2 separate regions of the Homo sapiens genome follow, and region 1 is reported to be linked to region 2. Evidence: microRNA targets listed by miRTarBase, many of them from high-throughput screens and not tested one by one. Region 2 holds a microRNA gene; the other region holds the end of a gene's coding sequence.

Evidence for each region. Region 2 holds the annotated microRNA hsa-miR-7975 (AUCCUAGUCACGGCACCA, at 1,252-1,269, shown strand). A microRNA usually pairs through its seed, bases 2 to 8, with sites in the 3' UTR of a target mRNA and lowers its output. Matches are read on the target gene's strand: a 7mer-m8 pairs with bases 2 to 8, a 7mer-A1 pairs with bases 2 to 7 and ends in A, and an 8mer does both.
Region 1: miRTarBase lists C8orf33 as a target of hsa-miR-7975. Seed matches in the 3' UTR shown: 7mer-A1 at 1,942-1,948.

Annotation. Positions count from the first base shown.
Region 1 is chr8:145,053,385-145,057,645 of GRCh38, forward strand. It overlaps C8orf33 (chromosome 8 open reading frame 33), which reads left to right. Exons shown (of 5, transcript NM_023080.3): 4 at 1-59; 5 at 634-2,646. The coding sequence ends at 773. Among named protein-coding and RNA genes, the nearest start is that of C8orf33, 3.0 kb to the left of the region's middle. RefSeq lists an enhancer at 1-457.
Region 2 is chr19:55,120,233-55,124,493 of GRCh38, reverse strand. It overlaps MIR7975 (microRNA 7975), which reads left to right and starts at 1,202; the gene lies at 1,202-1,269. RefSeq lists an enhancer at 3,474-3,563.

The DNA.
Region 1 (4,261 bases), not on the chromosome of region 2:
AGACTATAGGGCTCAGATGGAAGCCGAATGGCGTGAGGCCCTGCGGGCTCTCAGAGCTGGTGAGGAGCTAGCCACTGGTTGATTCAGGAAGGCCTAACTTAAGGAGGAAGTGTCTAGGGGGTGAAAGGAAGAAGGCCCAGAGCAACAAGCCTGGTGGGGGAAGGAGATGGGCTCAGGGAAGCCTGAGGGAGCAGGGAAACAGAAAGCGTGGACCTCTCTTTCCTCTTCCTAGGACTGAACCTGGGAAGCAGCGGGGAGGCCCTGGGAGGAGTGGGAAAGAGCATGGTCCTATGTTGGTCCTGCTCCTGGGTTGGGGAAAGCTGCCTCATGTCTTTGTGTCTTGGCTTTCTCTACTAGCAATGAAGCCATATCCCATAACAGTTTGAGTGCAATTCCTGGGGCCAGATCAGCTAGGTTCAAATCCTGGATCTACCACATAGTAGTACTAACACCTTTTGCAAACTACTGAACCTCTCTAAGTGGGGGATGATAGTAATATCAACCTTACAAATTTGAGGAATTAATCAGTTAATTTATGCAAGGTGGTTAGAATTGTATGGGCAAACATAACTGTACAGGTAATGTTAATTGTTATTATTCAGTTCTGACATACGCTGCTTCTCTCCCCGACAGCTGCTTATTCAGCCCAGGTGCAACCTGTAGATGGAGCCACCAGAAAGAAGAGCCAAAGGGTCTGCAGGCCTCGCTCTATATGGAGAGCCAAAGCCACTCTGGACATGCCTGATGAAGAGTTTAGGTTCAATTTCTTTTAGCGTCTCCCCGAACCTGAAACAATCCCCCTCCCTTGGGGTGGTGTAGGGGTTTGTTTTGAGTGCAGAGCCTTTCCAGGACTTCTGTTGTCAGAGAACCCTGGAGTTGGTCTGTCCCTGGCTGGTCCAAGGATTTGTAGCTGTTGTGAAGGTGTGAGACCATCAGATAGGCAAAAGACCCCGTTCGTTTTCTGATGAAATGTTCTCTCTTTCAGAAGAGAGAGAGAGGTGCATTTAGAAAATATGCAATAAATTGAAGTGAGTGTTCAAAGTATTGTAGAAGGAATATTGTACTCAGTCTTTAGGATTAGATTAAGTGGCTGTTGGTAACAAAGATTAGTGGAGAAGCTGTATAATCGTACACTGGTTTTCACTTTTGAAAGGAATCCCTGTCAAATGGTTTAGTGCTTAATGCTGTTATGTCATATTGCCCTAATCTCTATTTTTGATAAAATTGGATAAGGAGTGAAAGAGTATGCTGACCACCTATGTTAGAGGAAGTACAGAAGATGCAGGGGTGTGGTATCCCTGGGTCCAGTCCCTCACCTGGTACCTTTGTGCATGTTGCCTTCATTCCTGAGCAGGTATCATCCTCAGGGAACCAGCATGGCACCTACCAGGCCAGGCTCTGTTCTTAGGAGCAAGGAGCTTCTTGCGCTAACAGTTCTGGCCTGAGACCTGGATTGAGCCTTGGCAGACTTCTTGTCTAAATGTTGGCCATTCAGTCTCAGGCCCTCTGTTCCATGGAATTGGGAATCTCCAGGTGACCTAATCCTCATTGGTGGCTTGATGTTTGCTGGTATCTTCCAAACTCAGTTCCCAGACTAGATTGATACCTGGAGCCCAGCTGCCTACTCAGCATTTCCACTTGGGTGCTTCATAGGCATTTCAAACCTGATGTGTTTAAAACACTTGATTAGGCTCCGGTTTTCCTTTGGCTTCTGCTTTTCAGTGAATGGCATGACTGCCTATGTGGGTGGCAAGCCACCCAGGTGCCGAGGAAAGAGACTGAGGGCACGAGCTGTTCCAGTATAATAAAATATATAAAATAAGAAGAGTTATACTAGATCTAGATCATAGACATGATTATATGTGAGTATCATTAATCATTAGTTTATAGCAATTACTCTTTATTCCAATATTATAATAATCCTCACTCTACAATCATAACCTAGGAAAAACCAGGCCATACAGAGATAGGAGCCGAGGGGACATAGTGCGAAGTGGCCAGAAGACAAGAGTGTGAGCCTTCTCTTATGCCCGGACAGGGCCACCAGAGGGCTTGGTCTAGCAGTAACACCAGTGTCTGGGAAGATGCCTGTTGCAAAGTGGACCATGGTCTAGCAGTAGCATCAGTGTCAAGGAAAAACACCCACTACTTAGCAGACTGGGAAAAGGAGCCTCCCTTTCCCCGGGGGAGTTTAGAGAAGACTACTCCTCCACCTCTTGTGGAGGGCCTGACATCAGTCAGGCCCGCCCGCAGTTATCCAGAGGCCTGTCTCCCTGTGATGCTGTGCTTCAGTGGTCACGCTCCTAGTCCGCTTTCATGTTCCATCCTGTATACCTGGCTCTGCCTTTTAGATAGCAGGAGCAAATTAGTGAAAGTACTAAATGTCTGATATGCAGAAATAATGGCATAAGCTGTCTCTCTCTCTTCTCTCTCTCTCTGCCTCTGCTGCCAGGCAGGGAAGGGCCCCCTGTCCAGTGGACACATGACCCATGTGACCTTACCTATTATTGGAGATGGTTCACATTCCTTACCCTGCCCCTTTGTCTTATATCCAATAAATATCAGTGCAGCCTGGCATTTGGGGCCACTACTGGTCTCCGCGTCTTGGTGGTAGTGGTCCCCCAGGCCCAGGTGTCTTTTCTTTTATCTCTTTGTCTTGTGTCTTTATTTCTACAATCTCTCATCTCTGCACATGGGGAGAAAACCCACTGACCCTGTGGGGCTGGACCCTACATCTGGCGCTCTGATGTGGGGCTCTCCCTCGCTGTGTGAGGTTGCACTCTGAGTGCGGGATTCAGCGGAGGATTTTGACAAGAGATTCCTGAGGATTGCTGTTAGTAAGCTTGGTGGTAAGCTTGAGCACTCAGAGTATTCTGGGGACACCATGGTACAAGCCAGTACTAAGTACTCAGCTTATTTAAATTTTATAAAAACTCTTCTTAAAGAAGGAGGGGTTTAAGTTTCTACTGAAAAGTTAATTGAACTATTTGCGGTTGTAAATCTTCTTTGCCCTTGGTTTCCGACTGAGGGAACTTGAGAACTTAAAGATTGGGATGAGATCGGCCAACAATTCAAAATTGCTCATAAAGGGGGACATTTTATTCCACCCACCATTTGGTCAATCTGGGCTTCGGTTCGCTCTGTCCTAGACTCCTTACAGACTCAGGACAGCATGGAGACTGATCCCTCTTTCCTCTCCCTGAGGAGGGCGAGGAATTTCTCACTTCTCTTTCCCCTGAGGATACTGCACAAATTGAGACCATAATTTCACAGGCGGAATTCCACTCTGACATGCCTGTGCCGCCACCACGTATGCAAGAGGCTACCGCACCCCCGTTGTCGCTTTATGATGATCTTTTAACTGACCCGAATGAACTTATTTCCCCCAACCAGCAAAACTCAGCTGAAACATGCCAACAACCATTGTGGACGCACCCCCCTGCTTCTCCTCACCCTGTCAACGCTGCCACCCTGCAGACAGAGGATGAGATCAGGCAGCCTGAAAACGAGGCTATAAATTGTTTCCATGCAGCCCGGTACAGAGGCTCTGATACCTGAACAGCCCGGAGAGGAGGCTTTCAATTCTCGGCCAGGTAATGAGGCCCGCAACGATATCCCTCCACAGCCTGGTTTTCTCATGCCTGGTCTTTTCCCCCCAATCAGACTCCGGTAGAACCACAGGCTCCCTTCAGGCCTGGTTCCTTTACTCCTAATCAGACTCGCTTAGAGTCATAGGCTCCCTTGAGACCTGGTTCTTTTCCTCCTACTCAGACTCGGCAAGAGTCACAGGCTGCCTTGAAGCCTGGTTCCTTTCCTCCTAATCAGACTTGGCTAGAATCACAGGCTCCCTTGAAGCCAGGTTCTCTTTCTCCTAATCAGACGTGGGTAGAGTCACAGGCTCCCTTGAAGCCTGGCTGCTTTCCTCCTATTCAGACTCAGTTAGAGTCACATGCTCCCTTGAGGCGTGGTTCCTTTCCTACTATTCAAATTCGGTTAGAGTCACAGGCTCCCTTGAGGCCTGGTTCCTTTCCTCCTACACAGACTCGGCTAGAGCCACAGGCTCCCTTGAGTCCTGGTTCCTTTCCTCCTAGTCAGACTCAGAGTCACAGGCTCCATTAAAGTCACAGGCTCCCTTGAGGCCTGATTCCTCCTAATCAGACTCAGTTAGAGTCACATGCTCCCTTGAGGTGCTGTTCCTTTCCTCCTACTCAGACTCAGAGACACAGGTTCCCTTGAGTCCTGGTTCCTTTCCTCCTAATCA
Region 2 (4,261 bases):
CCAAACGAGCCATGAACTGGGCGGGGTTTTTATATTTGATGAAAAAGAGCCTAAACACTAACTGATCTGGGAGAGGTCGGATAAAGGAAAAGGAGCATTAACCTTGACTATGCCTTTGGCTCCAGCCACCTCTTTCAGAGGAAATTGCTGGGCAGGTGGGGGAGGGCTAGCTGCAGAAGAAAACTGTAAGCTGGATCGGGTGTGGGGAGAGGAGGTGATGGAAGGATTATAGGGCGGGGGAGAGGAGGCTGAGGAAGAATTGGAGCCTGATTCAGCCTGGTGGGGAGCGACCTGAGGAGGAGCAGCCTGGGGAAGAGGGGAGAGGTCAGATGGGTCGGTAGAAAAGGAAGATTGAAAAGACTCAGTGACGCTTGGGGTTGAGACTGAGGGGACAGGCAGGAGGGAAAGAAGGAGGATTTGGGACAAGTCGCATTAGGAACAGAGACTAGGGAGGGACCAATGTGTAAAAGAATGCCTGGATATCAGGTACCTCAGACCTTTGGCCCATTTTACGACAAGAATTATCTAGATCTTGTAGGATGGAAAAATCAAAATTGCCGTTTTCTGGCTATTTAGAACCATTGTCGAGTTTGTATTGGGGTTAAGCAGCATTGCAGAAGAAAATAAGGTGTTTAGGTTTTAGGTCAGGTGTGAGTTGAAGAGGTTTTAAGTTCTTGAGAACACAGGCTAAGGGAGAAGGAGGGTCGGACGGTGGAAGGTTGCCTATAGTGAAGGAGGCAAGCCCAGAGAAAAGAGAGAGTAGAGACATGGAGAGAAGGGGTGGGGGGTGCTTGCCCCCCAGGAAAGTGGTGCTTGCCACTAAGGGTGAAGGATCAAGGCAAGCGTCCCCGTGGTGATCAGACACCTCTGAAACGTGGGTGAATAATCAAGCAGGCGTCCCCGCAGTGATTAAACACCAAGGGAAGACTGTCTTCCCGAGTCCGTGACCAGCGCTGGGGTTTTGGGTTCACGTATAAAACACGTCTCCTCTGTCTCTACCAGAAAAGGAAAGGAACTGAAATTAAGAGAAGGGAGAGACTGAAGGGTGGCGCCAAGATTCAAAGGAGAAAGAGGTTGAGGGATAGTGAGAGAGGTTGTAGAAGAGAGTAAAAAGAGACTGCTTACCCAATTTAAAATTGGTGAAATATTCCTTGGACTGGTTGGTCTGAGGACCCGAGGTCATAGGTGGATCCTTCTCACGGTGCAAAGAGCAGGAGGACAGGGGATTTATCTCCCAAGGGAGGTCCCCTGATCCTAGTCACGGCACCAAATGTCACGCACGTCCGTGTGAAGAGACCACCAAACAGGCTTTGTGTGAGCAAAAAGGCTATTTATTTCACCTGGGTGCAGGTGGGCTGAGTCCGAAAACAGAGTCAGCAAAGGTGGGATTATCATTAGTTCTTATAGGTTTGGGATGGGCGTACAAAGTACATTCTCAAGGGCAGGGAGAATATTACAAAGTACCTTCTTAAAGGCGGGGGAGAATATTACAAAGTACCTTCTTAAGGACCAGGCAGAATATATCGTATCAGTTAGGGTGGGGCGGGAACAAATCACAATGGTAGAATGTCATCAGGTAAGACTATTTTCGCTTCTTTTTTGGATCTTCAGTTGCTTCAGGCCATCTTCATGTATATGTGCAGGCCCACAGGGGATATGATGGCTTAGCTTGGGCTCGGAGGCCCGACACTGGGATATGTAACCATTATTCTAGATGGCTATGCTAAACCCAGCATAATCAGAGGTTCCATTTTGTTGAGAAAGAAGGGGACAACGAATATTGGGCAACAATTTGTCATCTCTGCCACTGAAACCACTGCTTCTCTGTCCACTACATTTTATCAAAGGCAGAGTGTCTTGCAATCAGCTTGACTTGCAAGAGGCTCAAAGGCCTCTTGGAATGCCTTGCATCAGTTTGCTTTTGTGGCATAAAAAGTTACCCCAGGTGGGCGCAGTGGCTCACCCCTGCCTGTAATCCCAGCACTTTGGGAGGCTGAGGCGGGTGGATCACTTGAGGCCAGGAGTTCAAGACCAGCCTGGTCAGCATAGTGAAACCCCATCTCTACTGAAAACACACAAAAAGTAGCCAGGCATGGTGGCTGGTGCCTGTAATTCCAGTTACTTAGGAGGCTGAGGCAGGAGAATCACTTGACCCTCAGAGGTGGAGGTTGCAGTGAGCCGAGGTCATGCCACTGCATTCCAGCCTGGATGACAGAGTGGGACTTGGTCTCAAAAAAAAAAAGCAAAGAAAAAAGAAAAAAGTTACCCCAAATATTAGTGGCTTGAGTCAACAGTCATCTATTTAACTTATGGTTTGAGGGCTGGGCGCGGTGGCTCATGCCTGTAATCCCAGCACTTTGGGAGGCCAAGGCGGGCGGATCATGAGGTCAGGAGATTGAGACCATCCTGGCTAACACAGTGAAACCCCATCTCTACTAAAAATACAAAAAAATTAGCCAGGTGTGGTGGCAGGCGTCTGTAGTCCCAGCTACTCGGGAGGCTGAGGCAGGAGAATGGCGTGAACCCAGGAGGTGGAACTTGCAGTGAGGGGAGATCGCGCCACTGCACTCCAGCCTGGGAGACAGAGCGAGACTCCGTCTCAAAAAAAAAAAAAAAAATTATAGTTTGAGAGTTGGCAAATTGGGCTGGGCTCCGCTGGGAGTTCTTGTCTGGCTGATCTTGGCTGGACTTGCTCATGCATCTGCAGTCTCCTGGTGAATCAACAGGGGCTGGCTGTGGTCATCCCACTAGTGCCTCTTCATGTTCCCGCAGCTGGACCCAGATCCCTCCTGATTATAATGGCAGTGCTAAACTAACAGTGTCATTGAGGAGTTATGTTTGGCTGATAGTAAGAGACAGCTCCCCAAATAACAATAGTTTTGGTGAATTGGAGGTTTGTTTTCTCATATGTAACCTAAAAGACAAGAGGTAGGCAGTCCAGGGAAGGAAAGGCAGATCCCAACTGCCATCAGGAACTGAGGCTTCTAAGGCCAGGTGCAGTGGCTCATGCCTGTAATCCCAGCACTTTGGGAGGCCAAGGCGGGCAGATCATGAGGTCAGGAGTTTGAGACTATCCTGGCCAACATGGTGAAACCCCGTCTCTACTAAAAATACAAGAATTAGCCAGGCGTGGTGGCGTGCACCTGTAGTCCCAAGAGAATCGCTTGAACCCAAGAGGTGGAGGTTGCAGTGAGCTGAGATCATGCCGCTGCACTCCAGCCTGGGTGACAGAGCGAGACTCCATCTCAAAAAAAAAAAAAAAAAAAAGAAATTCCAGTTCTGGATTTGACAGTCCTCAGATTGAACCTTGTCTTGGCCAATTTCTAGCTCTGTGACTGGGGCTAGTCTCTTAGTCTCTGCCTCCTGGAGTTGATGAGATGATGTACATAAAATATCTGATAGGCATGTGATGTTGGCTGTGAGCATCTTCATATGCCACTCAAGAACATCATCTTTTGCTCTTGTCTTCCTGTGGTAAAGGTTTTGTTTTCACTTCTAGGGTCTGCTCTTTGCTCTCAATGGTAACAGTGGAATGTTGGTGCTTAACCTTGGAACTGCAGGCCCTCCTCACTGGTGTAAATAACCTCAGAAAGATAAGAAGAAAATGTTCCCACTTCTTCTGTAACAGCAGAAAAATAGATATTAGTCTGCACCATAAAGATGGTTCAGATAAGCAGGTGAAGTTAGAACATCCACAAAAGTATAAAATTGACTCTTCTGTCCTGTGTGGAGAGGGGTAAGAGTATTATAAGCCCATTCTGATTTCTGTTATTTTACTCTTTTTTGATTGCGCCAGTGCAATCCAGCCTGGGCGATGACAAGAGTGAAACTCCATCTCAAAACAAACAAACAAACAAACAAAAACAAACCATAAACACAAACTCATAAACAACATACATCCAGCCACAGACATGATTGCAAATACACACAATTATACATAAAGGCACAGAATACATACAGAACCAGAGCTACACGGTAACACCCTGAAGACCGACTTCTTGTTTTCCTGGGGGAAGGAGGTTGGTGTGTAAGTATGTGGAAAGTGTGGGGTTCAGGGACCACACCTAAGAGCCACCAGAACTATCCCTTTCTATAGAAACAGGCTTCGTGGCGGATGAAGACCCCATCTTGGGGTTCCACCAGATATTCCTACTAAAGAACATCAGCTGGGTGTGGTGGCTCATGCCTGTAATCCCAGCACTTTGGGAAGCTGAGGCGGGTGGATCACTTGAGGTCAGGAGATCGAGACCAGCCTGGCCAA